Regions from separate parts of the Homo sapiens genome. Here region 1 is linked to region 2. Evidence: fine-mapped expression QTL. Tissue or cell type: nasal epithelium. Region 2 holds a variant in brackets; the other region holds the start of a gene. All regions are shown on one strand. Distances are between the middles of the regions.

Evidence for each region.
Region 1: it holds the start of LPA, and the variant in region 2 is fine-mapped to the expression of LPA in nasal epithelium (TOPMed, PIP above 0.99).

The regions. Positions count from the first base shown.
Region 1 is chr6:160,658,684-160,670,415 of GRCh38, reverse strand. It overlaps LPA (lipoprotein(a)), which reads left to right and starts at 6,141. Exons shown (of 39, transcript NM_005577.4): 1 at 6,141-6,250. The coding sequence starts at 6,202.
Region 2 is chr6:160,691,700-160,703,431 of GRCh38, reverse strand. PLG (plasminogen) reads right to left here and starts at 1,188. Exons shown (of 19, transcript NM_000301.5): 1 at 1,079-1,188. The coding sequence starts at 1,127. The variant AGTTTCTG/G (reference allele first, on the strand shown) is at 6,311.

The DNA of each region.
Region 1 (11,732 bases), 33 kb after region 2:
AGGTTTTTGTTTGTTTGTTTTTTGTTTAACAAAAAGGTTAAAAACCACTGGTCTAGATAATTGCAAAGTTTGCTTTCCTTTTTCTGTGCTTTTTCTACTATTTTTAAAATGTCATCCTCCTTGGTTTCTTGATCCCCCTTTCTGCACTCCTGAGTCTGGGAACACTGAGGCCAACTAAAAGGAAACTTGGCAAAAGAGGAACACCTTTGGGTGTGCCAGGCTGCTCCCAGTGTTTTGCACTTATAAAAATTTAAATGCTGCAAACCTCTAAGACTTAGATATTATTGTTCCTATTTTACAAGTGAGGAACCTGAGGCTCAGAGAAGGTGCAGGATGGCACAGGGAGACCTGAATTGGAACCCTGGTTCCCACTTACTGGCTGTCGGGACTTAGAAAAGTCATGAACTCTCATTGATTGTTTTCTTATATGAAATGGGGGCTGCAGGGTTGTCGGGGGAGAAACAATAAGAATGTGCATCAAGTGTCGAGCACGTGCTACGCACTCCATCATGGCAGCTCCTACTAATATACAGAATAGAGTTGTATCTAACATGACTCTTTCTTGCAAGTGACAGAAAATCCAACTTAAGATGGATTAAGCAAAAAAGGGGAATTCTTGTTGAGCTGAAAAGTCTTTAGGCTCACATGATGGCCCCAGGGCCCAGGCCCTGTCCAGCCATGCAGTAGGCATCATCCTTGGGCACAAAGGTGAGATTCTTGTGGTGGCAGATGCTGTGGCAGCTCTTGCTTTGCCAGGAAAGACTGAGGAAGGCCACTGTCCCCATTAAGTGAACAATAGTTGGCCAGGTCTGAGAGGTTGAACTTGGGTCACAGGCCTGTCCCTGAACCCATCACTGATTGGCTCCAACCTGCATCAGCTATTACATGCTAGAGGTGGAGGCAGGACCCCACTCATACCCAGAAGGGCAAAGGGTGGATCCCTCAACAGGATTATGGGATGTAGGGTGATAGACTGCTGGGCAGCCAGAAAGCAAACAGATCCTCTCCAATACCTCAACTGATGAAAGCACCAAGCTAAAATCATAAGGATCTGGGTGTGAATTCTGGCTCTACCATCTTCCATGTGACATTGGGCAGTTATTTAATCTCTTTTAGCCTTGGCTTTCTTACCTGTACTAACATATAAGGTGATTGTGATGAGCATCATCATCGTCAACATCATCATCACCATCCACATTGCCACCACCACTCCCATTATCATCTTCATCAACATCATCACCACCGCCACCATCACCATTATCATTACCACCACCGCTATCACTATTATCATCACCCTCAACATCATCACCATCATCACTATCATCACCACCACCATCATCGTTACTACCACTACCACCACCATCATCACCACAGCCACCACCACCATCACCATCATTACTACTCAGCACCACCATCATCATTCCACCACCATCACCATCATTCCACCATCACCATTATCATTACCACCACCACTGTCACTATTATCATCACCCTCAACATCATCACCACCACCATCATCATTACTACCACCACCACCACCATCACCATCATCATCATTCTACCACCATCACCATTATCATCACCATCACCATCACCACCGCTATCATCATGATAATCATTATCATTACCACCACCATTAGCATTATCATTACCACCACCATCACTATCACTATCACCATCACCACGACCACTACCACCATCACCAACACCATCATTACTACCCACCACCACCATCATCATCATTCCACCACCATCACAATTATTACCACCACCACCATCACCACCACCACCACCATCACTATCATCATCAGTAGACATCATATAACCAGTTTGTAGCTGGCCCAGAGCCTACTTGCTGTTTCTTCTGCCCCACAACCATCCACACATTTCTAACCACCATCCCCCACTAGGCTTCTGCCTCGCCTGGTCTCACCTGCAGGTCCACTGAGAAAATGATTCTCAGAACACTAACTAGACCATGAGGTGCCACAAAACATAACTCAGGCCTGTTCATCAATTTTCTACATGTCAATAATGACATCAGGTCAATTGGCGTTCTCAGCCTCTGAGAGGGAGGTCAAAGTTTTCCTGCTCTCCCCTTCATGTTTCCAGGTGTTCCCTGACTTGGATCAAATGCAGAGTTTGGAGGTGTTGAGGCCAAGGGGATTTTCCAGGTCAGTCGTCATCCACAATCAATGGACTGATCCTGCCGCTGGACTTACCCTGCTGCCCTCTCCCCAAGGCCCCATCAGGGAGGGCTTCAATCCTCTTGTCACCTGTGGCCTACCTGCCCTCAGAGATGACATCTCTATGTCGGCCACTGGATGGCAGCACCTACTCGCAGACCACATCAACTTTCCTGGCAACTTGCGGTAGGTTTTCACCATTATCAGGATGTTTGCCTTGCTCAAATAGCAGATTCTAGAGAACGGTGCTCCCTCACACAACTATGTAGTCCAGGTGATGCACCCTCTGCCCGATGCTTGGTAGTCAGAAACTTCCATCATGCAGCTCTGCCCAGATTGAGCTGAGCTGGCCTCTGGAGTGAGGTGCTGGGACAAACATCTTCCATGCTGCTCATGTCAACTCCAGATGCAGTCAGGTTTCTGAACCAAAGTCAATGATCTAAGTGCAGTCAAAGGCTCTGGGGGAAGAAAGAGAGAGTGCCTCATCTCTTGCCTGTGCCATGCTCGCAAAGCAAGGATTTTTGCAAAATTCTAATGAAAGCTGGGCTTGCAAAATTAGAAAACTGGATTATTTGTGAGAACACTGAAACATCCCTGGGTGTGTCCATCTGGAAAAACAGCATTTCCTCTGGCAATTTTGCAACCGTTCTATTTGAATTTGGCAAAGAAAATAAAGCAGTTTTTCACAAAAGAATAAACACAACCAGGAGAATCTTCACTCTCCCAAATTGTCAAAGAAGTATAAATTAGAAAATGAATCAGGACAATTTCAACCTGTTAGATTAGCTAATATTTAAAAATTGAACACTCATACAAGTGTGGTGAAGTGATTGTTTTCTAGTGACATTTTACACTGTCATAACCTTCTAGAAAATAAATTGGCAGTGTTATTGGGAGACAGAAATATGTCTATATAATTTATGGGAACTTAGGCTCAGAAAATATTAAGGAATAAGAATGAACTTTATGAACAAAGATGTGGAGGGTTGGAAGCAAGAGGGGGGCCAACGCGCACGGGGAGGAAGCATTTGGGCAGTGACTCCGCAGACCCAGGCTCAGGTTGAACTAGACAACCTCCTTACACCTCAGTTTCCTTAACTGTAGAGCAGGAGTGATGGAACTGCCTGTTTCATAGGACTGTTGTGAGGATGAAGTGAGATACACCACATTATAAGCTTGTGCCTGGAAAGGATAATGCTTAGTAAATGATGACTATTCTTTTTTATTGCAATAAAATGTACACAGCGTAAGAGTTACTATTTTAACCATTTTTGCAGGGTACCACCAAGTGGCATTTAGTACATTCACAGTGGTGTGCAACCATCATCATATTTCCAGAATATTTTCCTCATCCCCAAAGGAAACCTCATGCTCATTAATCAGTAGCTCTCCTTTAAAATATTAGTTATGAAGATCATAGCACTATACAAAACTCATTATGTAATGTTGAGTGAAAAAATCAGGGTGTGAAATTTTGTGATATGATGTAATTAGTGAAAGAAGCATACAAAAAGTCTGAAAATATAAAAACAATAGCAATTGCATTTCTCAGACTCTACATTTAAACATTATTCTTTATGGTTTTAAAAGCAAAGAAAAAGGTAAAGAAACAACAACCAACCGCAAAGCACCATGACAAAGCTCAGATTGTTAAATCCAGGTTTTTGGAACATAGACTCTTATATGACGTTTACACTCTCCAGGGTTCAGAGAGTCTGGCAGCATTGGGAGCTGCCTTGTGTTCTACAGCCTCACGGACAGACAGGAGGTCCATCACCACTGCTCTGTTCTTCTGGAGTTTCCTTGTGAACATGTTGTGGACGTAGTTACCATTTCTTTCATCTTTTTAAACACAGGTACCTTTGGGGCTGGCTTTCTCAAGGAAGCCCAGCTCCCTGTGATTGAGAATGAAGTGTGCAATCGCTATGAGTTTCTGAATGGAAGAGTCAAATCCACTGAGCTCTGTGCTGGGCATTTGGCTGGAGGCATTGACAGTTGCAAGGTAAGAAAAGATCAAGAGACCAAAGTTAGTCTTGTGCTCTCCTGTCTCAGTCTCAGTCCCTTAGACTTGAGTCCCAAAGTAGCGAATTCAAGTAGGATTTAATCAATGGAAGACCCCAGTCTAAGTGTTGCTCAGAAACTCCCTAGATCTGTCCCAAATGTATATTCAGATCATCCAAGGGGACTTCTTGGGGCTTGAGTTCCAGATCAGCAGCAAGGGAGCCATAAGTGCCATAACTACCTCAGACCACTCACCCTCCTGGGGTGTCCCGGTGGCCAGGGACTAAAGTGGTGATTTTTCTGGTAGGGAAGGAGGTAGAGGGTACAGGACAGAGACTAACTGCACACAATATCTGAGACTGGAGCTCAGATATTGCTGATGATCAGAGTTGGCGTGTCTCCCCAATTGATTTACAACTGGGGCTTGGATACTGTTTTAAACGGGAGGAGCCTCCTAACCATCTTGACACAACCACTGACGTGACTACACTAGAGATAGACTCTTTCCACTTAATTCTACCACTCTTGCTTTACTTCATGAGAACGAAAATGTAAGATTGCACCATGAATTCATTTGCGGAAAGATTGATACTATGCTTTTATTTTATTTTATTTTATTTTATTTTATTTTATTTTATTTTATTGAGACTCTCACCCCGGTTGAAGTGCACTGACGTGATTTTGGCTCACTGCAACTTCCACCTCCTGGGTTCAAGTGAATACTCCAGCCTCCCTAGTAGCTGGGATTACAGGTGCCCACCACCACGCCTGGCTAATTTTTGTATTTTTAGTAGAGATGGGGTTTCACCACATTGGCCTGGCTGGTCTCAAACTCCTGACCTTGTGATCCACCTGTCTTGGCCTCCCAAAGTGCTGGGATTACAGAGTTGAGCCACCGCACTCGACCCTATGTTTTATTTTTAAAAATATTTATTTATTTATTTAAGCCACAACTACTAGAATAGGAAGGATTGATATTTTATTAATTTTATTTGGTATTTATTATTTTTTTTTCTTTCCTGAGACATTCTTGCTCTGTCACCCAGGCTGGAGTGCAGTGGCACATTCTTGGCTCACTGCAACCTCCATCTCCTGTGTTCAAGCAATTCTAGTGCCTCAGCCTACTTAGTAGCTGGGATGACTGGCATGTGCCTCCACACCCAGCTAATTTTTGTATTTTTTGTAGAGACAGGGTTTTGGCATGTTGCCCAGGCTTGTCTCAAACTCCTGGCCTCAGGTGATCCATCTGCCGTGGCCTCCCAAAATGCTGGGATTATAGGCATGAGCCACCACCCCCTCCTGGAAGGATTGATATCTTATAACATAATTTATAATTACAGAAAACATGTGAGTTCACTAGGAATAAATAAATTTTGAAGATAATAAAAGATTTTCACTTATGTTGTCATTTCGGCACAGTTTGGTATAGGATGTGGAGATGTTAACATTTATACCTAGCTTGCTCGTAAACTAAGACCTGAAAGGGTTGTGTCTATCAGCTGCACCCCTGGGTAGCGACACAACCTCGGGAAGGCCTCAGCCCCCTCCTCGTACAGCACTGCCTGTTGGAAAGCTTGAGGGAGGCTATGGATGTGCAGCACTTGGCAGAGGGTCTGGTCATGGAAGTTACCAGCAAATATGAGCTACTTTTATGATTTTATTTTATCCAAAAGAAAGAGAATGAAAGAAGAGGGGAGGAAACAAGACTAATCAGGAAAGATGAAGGTCTAGGGGTGAGGGAAGGAGTAAGGAGACATAAAGGCAATGTGGAGCAGCTGAGGGGGGAAATGGCTTTCACCACTTCCCAGCATCTATTGACATTGCACTCTCAAATATTTTATAAGACTCTATATTCAAGGTAATGTTTGAACCCTGCTGAGCCAGTGGCATGGGTCTCTGAGAGAATCATTAACTTAATTTGACTATCTGGTTTGTGGGTGCGTTTACTCTCATGTAAGTCAACAATGTCCTGGGATTGGGACACACTTTCTGGGCACTGCTGGCCAGTCCCAAAATGGAACATAAGGAAGTGGTTCTTCTACTTCTTTTATTTCTGAAATCAGGTAAGACATAGTTTTTTTAAATTATAAGAATTATTTTTTCTCCCACAATGTAGTAAAAATACATATGCCATGGCTTTATGTGCAATTCATTTAATTTTTGATTCATGAAATTCCCAGTTCAAAATCTTGTATATGATTGAAAAATTCTTAAAAAAATAAGTTTAATTTCCCCGTGAAGACTGTCACGGTGCTGGAATGAATGGGCAGAAAAAATAATGGTTGATTTTTCTAATCTAAAAGAGTGTGCCTACATGATGGCCAGTCTGGCTGAAAAATAAATAGCCATTGTAGCTAACTATGCAAAGGATGGCTAAGCTCTTCGCTTGGTTCTCAGTTTCATTAATTTATATCATCTCTGTTCAGGTGCCATGCTCCCCTCACTAGCAAGTTGAAACAATGAAATAACTCTTTGAATATGTTTGGTTCCTTGACCTGTTCATGGAGTGGGACTCAGCATTTCTCTCTTTGTTATGGCCTGAGTAAGGCTTTCCATCGGTATACATTTGCTTCTTATCCCTGGAGAAATTATACACATCCATTTGCCAGATGATATACGCATATAATGATTCAACAAATACTCAGGGTATTTGTTGAGTGGGTTAGGTCCCCACATTTTTATACATACATACACACATACACACCGTGTGTGATTGTGAATGTAAGTGTGTGTCCTTTACAAATACTAGCTTATTTAGCTCATGGTATAGGTAGGGTAGCATAGTCATCCCCATTTTATAAACAAAGAAATCTAGACTTAGGAAAATCATGTTATTTGTCTCGTGACCAAATTCCCAAATCAAGGAAATAAAGAAACCTGGATTTAAGCCAGATTTCCAAGAAAAAATCTAGGGCTCTTCTCACTTTTTCATCTTTGTTCCAACATTTGAAAAAATAAATCTAAACACATTCCAATGTAACTGAAGAGCAGGTTAATTGTTTGCCACTTGCAGAATCCAATTAAGAAGAGAGAAGTCTGGTATAAAGAAAGTGATTTGCTTCCAAAGCTAGCTTAGGGGAAGAAATGCAGCAGTCCTGCCGTACTACTTCACTTTAGGAGCAGAAAGTGGCACTTTTAAAAGGCAACAGAGGAGGCGAGCAAGGATTCAGGGGTCCATGCTAGCTTGGGCACCTTATCCACCAGGTAGTTGAGCAGTTGCCTGCTGGTGCCTTTGTGAGCAGGGTGTTGTCCCTTGAGGCAAATCTCTGGAGGGTGAGAGTTTTGTAGTGGGCATGCTTTGGTTTATAAATCACCTGTGAACTCAGGAGTTCCATCTTGAAGCACATACATAGTTAGATGAACTTGCCCTGCAGGGAGAGTCTGATGAAAGGGAGGTAGATGCTTGCAATTTAATCTATAAATTACCAGATAAAATTTTACAAGTTGACTTTAAAGTCAAACACATTTGAATTTAGTGGAAGCCATTCAAGAAAATATCAAAGAAAATACAGAGCAGGAGAAGATTAAGCAAAGAGTTTTTTGGGGAAATTGGTGTCTATGTCTGTGTGTGTAGGGAGTGCAGGGGATATGAATATTCTATTTCAGCCCATGGAAACTAGGATGTAGATCACTGTGAACTTATTCAGCAGGCTACACCCAAAGGCTAGAACAAACTTCTCTGCCACAGGATTAACATATGTTTTAATCGACCTGGGGGGCACATTCTCTGATAAGCTCTTTTGGAAAGCCAGGCTTTCTGTGGACGTGTTATCTTTCCAATGTGTGCTGGAATGCCCGGGGAGAGGAAAAAGTTTCTTTTACAGCCATGCTCAGTGAGAAGCGGAGAAACATCTTCTATTCACAAATTGCTAAGTCTTTTACACATGCAAATATGCATACACATTCACACACCACAGTGAGGAAGAAATTCTCACACCATTAATAAAATACATTTACTTCAGTAGCAATATACATCTACATTTTGCCTATAATATAAAAGTATTTTTCCTATTAAAAGATTTGTTTAATGTTTCTTCACCAACAAATAAACCCTATTAAATCCCCATTGCCATATGAGCCCTGGAGGTGAATCAGAGAAACAAAAGGATTGTGGAAAAATCATCAGGTTAAAAAAAGAAAAATTGATTCTGTTTTGGGATATTTCCTAGCAACATGAGCTGGGGAGGGGATCTCAGCAGTGATGCTCTATGAAGCATAATAAAATGACACAGTTACAGGTAACTTAGTTAAAGGGGGAAATAAATGGAAGTTTCCTCTTTTTGAATATCAATTGTAGCCTGCTCTGCTACATTTCAAAAACACTCTTCAAAATGTTTAACTGAACTCACTGTAGGAAGCACCTTATTAATTTATTGTGTGTTTTGAAGTCACACTGTGAGCTATAGAATTTACCCAAGCACAACTCTTCCTGGAAAAGAGAGTTCAAATGAGAAACAGTGCGGGGTGAAGACATGGATATGGGCCTAAAATATCTATTTCTCAATGATATTTTGATATATCTATCAAGTGCTTTTTAGTGGATTAGGTTCAGAATGCATCAGCCAATGCCTGTTCAATAATCCAGTTTTCCAGCATAGAGCATATTAAATTGAGGAAGGACAAAGTCACAGAGGTGGGGAGCAGGTGGACTGTGGCCAAGGACTTTGCATGAAACAGTGAGCGTGCATCCTCCTCCTTGCCCTGCCCTCATGGTCTGTGTACTCTCAGGAGGTCAGGACAGGCCTTTCTGAGAATGAGAATCTGTTCATCTGCCTTTCTACTGGATACTTGTCATCGGCATACAAACACATGTTCTCTGCAGTGTGTCATCTTTCAGAACCTCCCCTGACCCTGTATTCCCTAGAAGTCTCGCTGCTTTCAGAGCCAGGCTTCTCTCCTGCTGCCACCCCCACTGCTCTTCTAGTCACTCTTTAACCCACTCCATCTGCATGTGGCCCCCACCACACCCCTCAAAGTGGTCAAGGTTGTCCTGTTGCTTAATTCCATGGAAGCTTGGCTATCTTCATTTTATTAGCCTCTTTTGGCCTCTCACCCTGTGAAAATCACTACATTTTGTGCCAGAGATGGAGCTGGCATCTCCAGGCTTGGAAGAGGGCTGCTGAAGCTCAGCCAGGTGTCCTAAGGAGCCTCAGGACAGGGGATGCTCAGTAGCCTTGCAATGGGAACACAGCTGAGCCCCACTTGGCCACCCTTTGCCACAACCAGGCAGAAAGCAGCTTTTGAACAGATTTGTTGCCTCAGATTTGATCTCAAAGAAAAATCGTGGGCAGTATTGGTCCCAGGTTCTGCTTTTTTACAATTTCCTCTGAAATCTGGATGCCTATCAACACCTTGGAAAAACTGAATTCTCCCCAACTAATAGTGGTGTGTCACTGTAGTAAGCCTAGTACAAAAATGGCCTTCTTTGTGGAGGAGCTTCATATCCTCCATTTTTTTTTTGCTTAATTTTTGCCCAAGATGAGAACATAATTTAGTTCACTTTTTATTTATTCCCAACATCATCCATGCACCAACATTTTTGTAACTAAAGGAGGGACCATTCAGAAGATGCTTATCAACTGTCAAAGTGACAGTGTTACAACCAATGCACATATTGTAAGAAATCAAACAATGGCCTCCAAGGTTCATTTCTACACAGGGATTAGCAGATCAACATCAATCTTGGCAACACAGTTGCCACTGATGGTGTCTTATTTTTTTTATCATGACATGGCAATCAAGAGCAAACATGATTTATTCTTATTTAAGATTTTATGGTTAGACTAGGCAGATAGCTAGATATGAGCAGGAGGTGGAAGCCCCTGAGAGAATGGAGGTCTGGAGAATCTGAAACCCCAGAGATTACCCAAGTCCTGCATGCTAGACATGAGTGGAGGAGGGGGAATACCTAGGTAGAAAAGAATGCCCCTTAAGATGCCCAGCAGTCGCTCACTGTGCAGTTAACTTTTCAGAATGCTGCTAGATACATGCTGATAGGGAGGGAAGAGGGCAAAGGAGAAATTCCTAAGAGATACACGGTTGCAGTTAGTATACATCTGAGTGCTATACAACCTTCTTTGGGTGGTGGCAAGAAGCAATGCAGCCATTACGTAGAATTCATATCAAACACCTGTATCACAGGTGTTAAAGAAACAAGAAACATTGTACTTCTTGTATTCTTAATAATGATTTGCAATATTGTCTTTAGTATCACTGCAAACCTCTATAAATATGATTTTTAAAAAGTATTTCTTTAGGTTGGAATTACTTCTACGCATTGACTTATCTTCCTGGGTTTCATTAGCCGTACCCGTTGTACTTTCTTCCTTACCACTGTTTATCTCAAACTCTTGAGATTAAAGTATGGGCTCAGGAGGGAGCGAGGAGCTTCAGGACTCTCACGGACCTCCAGCACAGTGTAGCTGCCTTATGGAAAAGTGGCCACACTGTTTTCTGCACTGGTCCCTGCCCCTACTATTCCTCACTGGGCAGAGCACAGCCACCCTGGCCCTGCCTGAACATTTTAGTCAGTGTTGGCTCTGTGCTTCTCTGGGGAGGAAATCCAAGAGACAACCCACAGCCCCTCTGCCATTTCAGCTGCAGCAGTACCACCGTTAATGCCCTTGGGCTTGAGAAAGAAGGGACCTGGCCACTTCCCTGACACCTCCAGCACACAGCAGGGAAAGAATTCCAGTTTCTCTTTCTTGTGAGCTTTCACCTGCTACTCTTCACCAGGCAAGGCTCCTGGCTTGGGCCCACAGTGCAGGCACCTCGAACTCAGTTGAACATTTCCACTGGCTGCACTCTGTGTTTTTGTGGGGTGAAGCTCCCAGAGGTGACTGAAAGTCCTTCTGCCACTAACACTGCAGTCATACTGCCCTTGCTGTACTTGGACTAGGGAAGGAAAAAAGATCCTGAGTGCTTTACTCACACCCCAGTGTGCCCCAGCCACCCTATGGAAAAGAGGCCAGTGTGTCATCCCTGCAAGCACCCTGAGGCCCCTGCCCCTGCTGCCCCCAAGCTGTAGAGCCAGAATATAAAGCTGGCAGAAAAATGTAAAAAGGCTAGACTGGCTTAGCCTCCCAGCCTACATCTTTCTCCTGTGCTGGATCCTTCCTGCTCTTGAACATCGGACTCCAAGTTCTTCAGCTGTGGGACTTGGACTGTCTTCCTTGCTCCTCAGATTGCAGGTGGCCTATTATGGGACCTTGTAATCTTGTGAGTTAATACCACTTAATAAGCTCCCCTTTGTGTGAGTATATCTATATCTATAGATAGATATAGGTATACTCACTATATATACACATATATACATATACTCTCTCTCTCTCTCTCTCATATATATATATATATAATCTCCTATTAGTTCTGTCCCTCTAGAGAACCCCGACTAATACAGATTTTCATACCAGAAGTGGTTCTTGAGGAACAGAATATTAAGGATGGAATTCTTTCATTGGTTTTGGGACTTCTGGTGTTGGCTGATTAATATGATTAGACCAAAAAATGCTAAGGACTCTACTTCTAATAGTATGGAGAACACTG
Region 2 (11,732 bases):
ACAGCTAAGGAGAGTGGAGTGCGTTTTTGGGGGTATGAATAGTTTTAAAATTTATTCTGATGGTGGCTGCACAACTCTCAATATCTTGAAATCCATTGGATTGTATGCCTAAATGGGTGAATTCTATATGTTAATTATATCTCAATAAAGCTTTTTTTTTTTTAAAGAAAAAGAAGTACTAGGACATGTTTAGAATATTCTTTCAAAGGCTTAAACAAAGCTGAAAAGTGAGAAGAGCCCTAGATTCCTTCTGGGAAACCTGGCTTAAATCCAGTTTTCTTTATTTCCCAGATCTGAGAATTTGGTCACTGAGCAAATAACATGATATTCCTAAGTCTGATTTCTTTGTTTATAAAATGAGGATGAATATGCTACCCTACCTATACCACGAGCTAAATAAGCTAGTATTTGTAAAGGATACACACTCACACTCACATTCACACACAGGTATGTATGTATGTGTAAAAATGTAGGGACCTAACCCAAGCAACTGAGTATTTGTTGATCACTATCTGCACACAGCATCTGGCAAATGGATGCGTGTGATTTTTCCGGGGATAAGAGGCAAACGTATACTGATGGAAAGCCTTCCTCAGGCCATAACAAAGGGAGAAATGCTGAGTCCCCGACCCTGCCGCCACCATGAACTGGTGAGAGAACGGAATATATTCAAAGAGATATTTCACTGTTTTAACTTGCAAGTGAGGGGAGCATGACACCGTAACAGAGATGATATAAATTAGTCAAACTGAGAACCAGGCAAAGAGCTTAGCCGTCCTTTGCATAATTAGCTACATTGGCTCTTTTTCAATTAGACTGGCCATTATGTGGGTGCACTCATTTAGATTTGAAAAATCACCCATTATTTTCTCTGCCCATTCATTCCAGCACCCTGACAATCTTCACAGGAAACTTAAACTTATTTCTTGAAGAATTCCTCAATCTTATACAAGATTTTCAACTGGAAGTTTCATGAATCAAAAATTAAATGAATTGCACATAAAGCCATGGCATATGTATTTTTACTACATTGTGGGAGAAAAAATAATTCTTATAATTTAAAAAAACTATGTCTTACCTGATTTCAGAAATAAAAGAAGTAGAAGAACCACTTCCTTATGTTCCATTTTGGGACTGGCCAGCAGTGCCCAGAAAGTGGGTCCCAATCCCAGGATGTTGTTGACTTACATGAGAGTAAACGCATCCACAAACCAGATAGTCAAATTAAGTTAATGATTCTCTCAGAGACCCATGCCACTGGCTCAGCAGGGTTCAAACATTACCTTGAATAAAGAGTCCTTACAACATGTTTGAGGGTGGAATCTGCAATAGATGCTGGGAAGTGGTGAAAGCAATCTCCCCCCTCGGCTGCTCCACGCTGCCGTCATGTCTCCTTATTCCTTCCCTCACCCTTGTACTTTATCTCTCGCAATTAGTCTTATTTCCTCCCCTCTTCTCTTATTCCCTTTCTTTTGGAGAAAATGAAATCATAAAAGTATCTCACATTTGCTGGAACCTTCCATGACGAGACCCTCTGCCAAGCGCTGCACGTCCATAGCCTCCCTCAAGCTTCCCAACAGGCAGGGCTGTTCTCATTCCTGCTGTACGAGGGATGGGGCTGAGGCCTTCCCCAAGGTTGTGTCTCTACCCAGGGGTGCAGCTGATAGACAAAACCCCTTCAGGTCTTAGATGACAAACTTAAGTTAGGTGTAAACGTTAATATCTCTACATCCTACACCAAATGACATAGAAATTACGACATAAGTGAAAGTATCTTATTATCTTCAAAATTTATTTATTCCCAGTGAACTCACATGTTTTCTGTAATTATAAATTATGTTATAAGACATCAATCTTTCCCCCAAATGAACGTATGCCATATTATTATATTCTCATTCTCATGAAATAAAGCAAGACTGGTAGCATTAAGTGGAAAGCGTCTATCTCAATTTTAAATGTTGAATCTGTACTTTTCCCTGGCTTAAGTCTAGAGCAACCAGGTAGTATATATGCTGTAAAACTTCTATTTTAGTGTTCAAAGATATTTAGGAATAAATCAATTGACCTCTCTATTTTAGATGTGAAATAAGGACCAGAAAGCATTGTTCCTCTTTCCAGGCAGTGAAATTCCTGCCTATTCATTAACTGGCAAAAGAGTAGAGGTGGGAGCCCAATGGTCTTGGGTGGAATGTCCTGCGGAATTCCCTGGGATTGAGGAACCATGCAGAACCCTCAAGAAGAAGCCACACTGGGCAACAAGAGGGTGGCCCCATGTGAGGGACAGGGGGACCGAATCGCTTTTCCTGATTTCCTATTTTAGCCTCACTCTCTTCTCTCCTCAAATTCTTACCACTCCCTTTATCCTCTCTGACTCACCTCATGGCCCAGTTCATTAAAGGGGACAGAAGGTGGAGGCAGATTGAGAAACCAGCAGTGGGCAGACATTTTATTTTTAATGTGAAATGTCTCTTAGGGGGCTCATGTTGATGTGCTTGAGAAAGTACTCTGGGAAAAAAAAATACTCTACTAATATATAATGCTTCCAGCATGTATTTATTTCCACTTAAAATATTATTGTAGCAGTTCCTCTTGGATAAGGCACCTTGGGAATGATGTTATCAGAAATTCTACATCCACATAATTTTCTTTTCCTGTTGTTTTGGTTTTGACTTGGGTGGTGTTGGTATAGCTTTTGCCCACCTTTCCCCTGGTAGTTGTTGGATGCATTAAATTCTACAAATGTGATTTTATAAATTAGTTGCCCTCCTAATGGCCTCCTGGCTGTACATTCTTCCCTACCTTCATAATCCATCAGCATCGTGAAAGCACAGAGGGACGTTGAGCAGAGCTCTGTGCTGGCGCCACCGCACTCTGTAGCCTGTAAGAGAGCAGCAAAGAGGAATGTGTTGCTCAGGTATAGACGGGGGTGGGTGCATAGAGACTTCCGCTGCGGCATGGCCCTTCATGTCCAGGGTAGGCATGAAGCAATGGACTATTCCAGGTTGTGCATAGGAAACCACACAGCACTCTTGGAGGGATTTTTGCTCTAAAGACAACTAATTCAAAATAAGGCGCTTTCTACCTGAAAGAACAGCATGAACTAAGAAAAGAGATATATAGAGAGATCTCTGTGTACTATGATCAGGTTGCACATATTCTGGGATTTATGTATTCTTATTAGTTCAATTCCTTATTTATTGACCACTTACTGTTTACAATATTGTATTAGATTCTTTTAGGATTACAGTTGACCCTTGATCAATTTCAGGGGTTGGCACACTGACCATACACAGTAGAAAATCCAGGTATAACTCTGACTCTCAAAAACTTAACTACTAACAGCCTGCTGTTGACCAGCAACAGTTAATAACATGTATTTTGTATGTTATATGTATGATATACTGTATTCTTACAATAAAGTAAGCTAGAGAAAAGGAAATGTTCGTAAGGAGAAAATACATCTGTGGTACTGTTATGTATTTTTCCATACAGTAAGTTTACACCACCTGTTTACAAGATGAATCATCTGTCTGAAATGGAAGCAACCCCAGCTACAGACCTCAGTCTCTGTTACATATCAAGCAAATCCAGTTTTTCTTGTAATGTCAAATGTCATGACTTTTCTCTGCTTCTTGGGAGCACTTCCAGCATCACTAGTGCCACTTCATATTGGATCCCATGGTGTTATTCAAGGTTTACAGTACAGCACGAAACAGGACGAAAAATACATGCGAACAGGGAGAGAGCACTTTTTACTGTGATGCGCAATTCACTGGGGATGAACTGCTCATGATGGAATGTTGAGTATCACAGAACGTTTTAAGTGGATACTCGCAACACCTTTGCTCATTGCAACAGCAACAGGAGGAGGATATGAAATTATTACCATAGTGTGGTATGCACTACGGTTAAATTTATGCAGTTACAATTTAATACTGCATCTTGATGTTTGTATACACTTCTCTCAACTGAGAATAGCACCATATACGATCTGTGAGTGTGTACACAATTTTTACTAAATTTTAACTTTTGCAATAGTTTTGTTATATTTTATGGTAGTAAAGAATAAAATAGACTAGGTATCTACATATATTTTATGCATTCATGACATACTTAACTTTTTCTATTTTTGTTGATATTTCTAGCTGGATGGTTTGTCTTTGAGTTTTTTCAAATTGTTGCAAAACTCCAAAACATTTTCTAACACATTTATTGAAAAAAATCTGTGTGTAACAGTTCAGACGTGTGTTGTTCAATGATCAACTATATGTCTAAAGAGTACAAGTCAGTCTCTAACCTTCCCCAGCCTCTCTATGCTAAAGGAACTACAGGAAACTTTCGCACGCAAGATGTGTGGAGATTCTGCTGCTGCACTTGTAGCAGGCATAGGAACGTTCAAATAGGCTGGGCGCGGTGGCTCATGCCTGTAATCCCAGTACTTTGGGAGGCCAAGGCAGGTGGATCACGAGGTCAGGAGTTTGAGACCAGCCTGGCCAGCATGGTGAAACCCCATCTCTACTAAAAATACCAAAAATTAGCAGGGCATGGTGGCATGCTCCTGTCGTCCCAGATACTGGGGAGGCTGAGGTGGGAGAATTGCTTGAACCCAGCAGGCAGAGGTTGCAGTGAGCCGAGATCGTGCCATTGCACTCCAGCCTGGGTGAGAGAGCAAGACTCTGTCTCAAAAAAAAAAAAAAAAAAAAAAAAAAAAAGAACATTCAAATAAGATTGGAGACAAATTGAATTCTCCTTAGCTCTGCCCAGCATAAGGCCTGCAATCAAGATCCACTCAGGTCCTCTTAAGAAGGAATAGACGTCTCTTCCAGCATTAAAATGGTAAATTCCTTTCAAGTATTTACAAAGAAAGTTATAAACACCAGGAAACATCAACCTCACCAGGAGGTGAGGTAGAGTTCAACCTTCCATCTCACCTGAAGTGGAAAATGCAGCCAAGTCACAACTTCCTAGGCGAAGCACGTCCATGCAAGCTGGACTGCATTGCTGGCCTGACATTTGCACCTGGCAGCTCCACGCCACCCCTTCTTTCAACCTTCCTTGAGCCCAGGCTCTGCTGCCCGGGAACTGCCATTCTAGGACAGCTCATTTCATCAACATGAACTTCTCTGCATAGCCCCAAGAGGACAGCATCATTTCCAAATGGAACTAGCAAGAACTTAATTAATCTACTAAGGACTCATATAAAGCATCCCTCTGCCGTGGTAAGGGTCCTCGGCAAGTTTATCTGTGCCTTCGATGCCAATGTGCAGATTGTTTTTACTGCTGTTTTAGTGTATTAGGGCATACCAGCGAGGAGACTTGTACTAATTAACCTGGAGGTGGCTCTTCTTTCTTTAGTTGCCCTTTTCCACATGTTAGCCTTTGTTCATCAGTCCCCAGGACCATGCAATGAGGTGATTATCAGCCCTCATGTCCTGTAAAGAGATAGCAGACTATCTCTCAAGTTAGCACAGTGGTTAAAATGTAATCAACTCGGGGGCATTTTCTTTTCCTTTCTTTCTTTTTTTTTTTTGGAAACAGAGGCTGGCTCTGTCACCCAGGCTGGAGTGCGGTGGTGCAAACACAGCTCACTGTAGCCTTAACCTCCTGGATTCAAGCGATTCTCCCACCTCAGACTCCAGAGTAGCTGGGACCACAGGTGCACGCCACCACGCCCAGCTATTTTTTTTTTTTTTGTATTTTCTGTAGAGACAGGGTTTTGCCATGTTACCCAGGCTGGTCTTGAACTCCTGGGCTCATGAGATCCTCCTATCTCCGTCTCCAGAAGTGCTGGGATTGCAAATATGAGGCACTTTACCTGGCACTAGGGGACACTTTCTAAGTGAGACCTAACTCATTTGGGGCTCAGTGAGGTGATATTTTCTTAAATGAGTTGTGCTTGAAAAAATCTAGATATCTATTCATCTTTGAAAAAATTAATTTTCATTGGCTGTCTCCTCATCATTAATAAGCATGGCTGTGTTACATGCTTAAGACAAATTTTAGCAGAGAAGAAGACAGTCAGACCCGGATAACTTAGCAGCCTGCACTGAGTTGGCACCAGGACTCCCCAGAGGAGAGACGAGGGTCCTTCTGCTCTGAGGTCCAGACTCACCATGGATAAAACAGAGATGCACCAAATCATCCTTCCCACCTCTCACATTCATTGTTCTCTAAGCTTATTCGGAGAAAAAAAAACCTTATCTCACAGTATGTCGGGGAGATAAGTCATGTAGAAAAACATTAAAATATTTTCAGGAAAGCAAATGAGTGCACAAAAAACCTGGTGAAATCTGAGCAAGGTCTGCAGACT[AGTTTCTG/G]ATGTGGTGCCAATGGCAACTTTCCAGTTGTAATCATGAACTATAGTTATGTAAGATACTGCCTGAGGGAGGCGGGGCCATACAAGGACCTCTCAGTACTATATTTGTAACTTGTTGTGTTTATACTTAATTCAAAACAAAAATTATATGTATATATTTACATATATACATACATGTTATGTTTGCAATACATGTGCCTATATTTGGATACATGTGTCTATTTTAGGAGGACCCAGGATGATGTAACTGCTTTCACACTAGTTAAGAGAACTCCCAAAGCTCAGGGAAAGTCTAAAGTTATAGAGTTCCTAACTCAGGGTGCAGAACTCGGACTTTGGCTGATTCTCGTGAGCTCCTGGGATGAGTGGGTGGGACAGAGAGGCTTCTCCACCACCACGCTCCTTCCCTGGCTGGAGACCAGATGGTTAAGGACTGATGGGTGCCAGAGAGCAGCAGCACCCCATGTGGATCCAGAACCCAGAGGCTGGAGTAGTTCATGCCTGCTCCTGCCTCCCAGGTATTCAAGGGAAACCCACCATCTCCACACACCAGCAAAACACCAGCAAAACAGAGGCCCCAAGTAATGACTTCTCCGTTCTCATCTTATCTTGCCACCTGACCAGCTCCTGGGCTCCTCAATCCAAAGTTGGGGAAGAGAGAAGGGAACGTCAGTGGAAACCACTTTTGCTATAAACGCTCATCCTTCAGATGTTCTTTCAGTGGGTACAATGCTTAGTGCTGTGCTGGGTGCTAGGGAATCAAGAGTAAATAAGAGGCCATCTTTGCCCTCAGGGAGTCTTTGGTCTAACGGGGTTGGGGCAATGCAGGTCTGTAAACTGGAATTGTAAAAGTGAAGTGGCCCAGGTCCCATTTGCTGTAGTGGTGCACAGAGAGACAGTCTTGAGAGGTGAGGAGACATTTCCCAGAGGAAGTGACATCCAAGTTGAGACTTAGAAGACAGCTGGAAGGATGAGAAAGGAGAATAATTCTGTGAAGTCCTAATTAGGCAAAAGGAATCAGGCTGGTGACACTGAGGAAAAAAGAAAGAGAAAGCAGATAAGCTATAAGTTTGCCTTTCTTCATGGTCCAGGACCATAGCCCTCCTGCACAAATAACTCACAATCTTCCTGTGCCCAGCTATCACCAGGCCCTCAGCTGATAGAAAAATGCAGGTTATCCCACTGCAACCTTGGTGTTATCAGTACTGCACTAAGCCCTCTTCAGCACGCAGCACAAGCAACATCCTATAAAACCCCCAGCAAGCCTTTGTCTCTTGGCATTCAGCTCCTCTCTTGCTGGCCTGCCCCTTGCTGCCTTGCAACATATTTTCATGCTTTCTTTAATAAATCTGCCTTTCTTTATCTACAACTGTCTTGGTAAATTCTTCTTACTGCCCATGGGATACTGGCCTCAGATAGTTGCTTCACCTGCTACACATTCTTTAAGCAGAAGAAATATATGTGCAGGGTCCCAGAGGCGGGAGGAGCAGGCAGATGAGAGGAATTTGGCTAACATGGGGAAATGGTCCAATTGTGCAGGCTTCTCACTCTGTTTCAAGAAGTTTAGACTTCAGCCAAAGAAAGGCAGGGACTACTGTTACTGAAGGCTTTTAAAATCCAAGGGTGGCTTGATCTCTCTGATTGCAGTGTAGTGAGGAGGTCATAGGAGGTGAGAGATGAGAGGGGGTGAAAGAAGGCAGTGGAGAAAGAGAAAAAAGAATGGATTAGGGGGATGTTGAGAAAGTAGAATTGACATGATTTTGTGACTGACTGAATGTGGGGAATGAAATCAAGTATGCTGCCTGAATTTCTGTCTTGGACATCTGGTGGATAGTGGATCATTCATTAAGAAGGAACACATAGGAGGGAATAAGATGAAATTGCCTGGGGACAATGTTATGTTTAGGAACTTGAGAAAACCCAAGTGGAAATTTCCAGAAGGGAGTTGAATATTCTGGTTTAGAACAGGAGTTGGCAAATTATAGCCCATGAAGCAGGCTTATTTTTATAAATCAAGTTTATTGGAACATGGCCACACCCATTCTTTTACCATTTTCTGTGGCTATATTTGCACTACCTTAGCAGAGTTGAGCAGATGTGACAGAGACAGTACAATGAGCAGCAAGCTGATAAAATATTTGTTATCATCGCTTTACAGAAAAAGTTTGCCAATTCCTGGTGTAGAGCCTAGGAAAGAGGTCTGAGCTGGAGATGTGGAATCAGCAGTTGTCAGCAGATAGGTGGGATTGAAGCAATGGGGGTGGACAAGCTTGCTCAGAGAGAGAAAAAGAAGCCCTAGGATAAAGTCCTCAACAACATAAAGACCCAGAAGGAGAGAATTCTGTAGAGATGACTGAGAACAGTTAGCCAGAGGGGAAAATTGACAGCGTGAGTCCAGAGAAGCCAGCAAAAGTGAAAATTGTAAAAAGGTGGGAGTGGTCATGGGTACCAAAGACTTGTGAGAAATCAAGTGAGATGTATCCTGTGTATGCCAGAAGGTAAGAGCAAATGAGGCCAACATAACCTTAATAATACCAATCTCAATGGCCCAGACTCCAGCAAAGTCTACTCTGGCTACTGCTACCACTAAATATATATAAAACTCAGTAAAATAGCAATTTTAATTAAACAAATTCCTGACCTATTGCTGTAATACTCCTTTACCAACATTTTTGCCTGTGTATGCTTTGATTGCCTCTTCAATAATGTTGTAATATCATATTCTATGAGAGAAGAGAATAATAAACTATTTTGGCTCTAGTATTTTATTATTGATAGATTTAAATTTTTCTTCTGGCTTCATAGCTCATGATCGATAATGGAAGATTAGTTTTCAGGATTCTTGGCACACTTAGGAAAATCTTTATCAAACTATTTTTATGTATGAGCTGTAAGATTTGGTTTAATTCCCAGATGGGATGAGCTACACTCTTTTCTAGCTTTGTACATTTCTATTTTTCTTATTCAACTTTTATTTTAAGTTCAGGGATAAAAGTGCAGGGTTGTTACATAGGTAAACATGTGTCATGGGGGTTTGTTGTGCAGATTATTTCATCACCCAGGTATTAAACCTAGTACTCATTAGTTATTTTTCCTGACGCTCTCTCTCTTCCCATCCTCCAACCTCTGATAGGCCCCAGTGTGTGTTGTTCCCCTCGACGTGTCCATGTGTTCTCATCATTTAGCTCCTACTTATAAGTGAGAACATGCGATATTTGGTTTTCTGTTCCTGTGTTAGTTTGCTAAGAATAATGGCCTCCAGCTCCATCCATGTTCCTGCAAACGCACATGTCTTGTGACACAATCGTGATGTAATCTATGGTCTTGCATATTTACATTACACCTCTAGGTAAGTCAGCACAAGGGAGGTGAAGACTATTCTGAAATCTGTTTTACACAGGGACAGCTAGCAATAACATACACAGAAATGACTCCATACCACATAAATAAATCCCATGGAACCCAAACTCAATGACTCAACTCAATTCTTCTTTTGCTGGATCCTCAAAATGCCCACATCCACTCCACCACCACCCAACATGAGGGCAGAAAGAGATCAGAATTTTAGCCAATTACAGCTAAAATGTCTGCTTTTGACAAAAGCAAATGACCAAATGGATACATTGCCAGGGCCCCTCCAGAGCCTCAGAAAGGGCCTGTTGAAGTTGTCTTTTGCTATGGGATGAATCAAACCAAAACACAGTGGCTTAAAATAAGACGAATTATTTTATTTCTGAATTCTGAAGGTCTGCTGGGTTTGGCCAGGTGATTCTCTTTCTTGTGGTCTCTTAGGTCAGTGGTGGCTAGGGCTGAAACCATCTCAAAGCCTTCCTCACGCACATCTCATGGGTGATCCCAGCTGTTGCTGGAATCTCATCTGTGACTATCGGCCAAAACACTCAGAACTTCTCCATGTGTCTGGGCTTCCTAGAAGCCTGCAACTGGCTTCCAACAGAATCAGGCAGAAGTTATTTCTCCTTTACAGTCTAGCCTGGAAATACTCCAGCATCATCTGCATGAGAGTCACAAGTCTCCCCAGATTCTAGGGAAGGACATATAGACCCCACCTTTCCATGGGAGGACTATTGGCCTCATCCTGTAAGAAGAGTACATGTGGCTGGAGTCTTGTGGCTGCCATCTTGGAAAATACAATCTGCCATGGGACTCATGCAAGGAAGGAGCCCTGAGCCTGAATGTTATTAGCTTTTCTGTGCATCGGTCTCTATTTGCGCATGTTCCATAATTCGTCTCCTTCCAGAGCTTGCCAAAAGTGTCCCGCTATAATCTTTCCCTCTCCCATGTTGACACAGGTCAAATCCTTGAACTCTGTTGCCCAAATAGCTTCAAGCACATCTGCTTCCACTGAAGGTTGAGCCAAAGGTTAGTCTCCTCCCCCTCCACTAGTGGTGGCCTGAACCCCCAATATCACTGTGTCTTTGTTAGGTAAAGGGACTTGTATATTTATGGCAGGTGGTACCTGAGGAATAAGCTCTGGCTGTCATTGCACACAGAAAGTTAGGTTTCTGCTATTTCAGAGGATAGCCCCCCCTTGTGTTCAGTCAGAGGTGTAACCAGACACAGTTTTATGGGAATCAAAAGTGTTGCAATCTTTAATTGCCATAAACATGCAATCCTTCTTCCACAAAGCATGCTGAAAGATGTGCTTTTTGGTGCTGTGGTGGCAGGGTTAAAATGGAGTTTTAGCATTCGTCCCACTTTCTATCTCAAACCAGTAGTCCCTCCAACCCGACATCACGGTGTTGGGGGAGACCGCTAAGTGCTTGGCACAGCCAGCCATGTGGTATGGAGCCACTTCTGTGGCTGTACCACCATCTGACAGTAACCTCACGAGAGACCCCAAGGGAGAGAACTGCCTGGTCAAGCCCAGCCAAACTCCTTTTCCCCTTAATGGAACATTCTCTCAGGAAGCCTGGCTGTTTCTAACAAATTGATCTTGGCCCAGAGCCATCGCAATTTGTACAAGATTTTATATCCCTGCACCTCAATAGTCATGAGAGTGCTGGCTTCTCAGTATTTTTCTTCCAGGCAGACTGCTCTGGCCCACCAGGTGAATCAGGGTTGTGTTTAGATGGTTAGGAGACTCCTCCCAAGTTTAAAACAGTGTCCAAGCCTCAACTGTAAATCAACTGGGGAGACACCCCAACCCTAATCACCAGCACTGTCTGAGCTCCAGTCCCCGCTCTATCAAGATGTCCTTTTAGAAAGATAAGGACTAAAAAATGCTCACTGAGTTTGGCGATGACAGTCAGTAGAGGGGTGGGAAGAGAAATCACGCCATATGTCTCAGCCCACTTGTGCTGCGGTAACAAAGTGTCACAGTCTTTGATGGATTACCCAGATGACAGCCTGGGTAACCCATACAGGACAGAAATATATCATCTCACAGTTCTGAAGG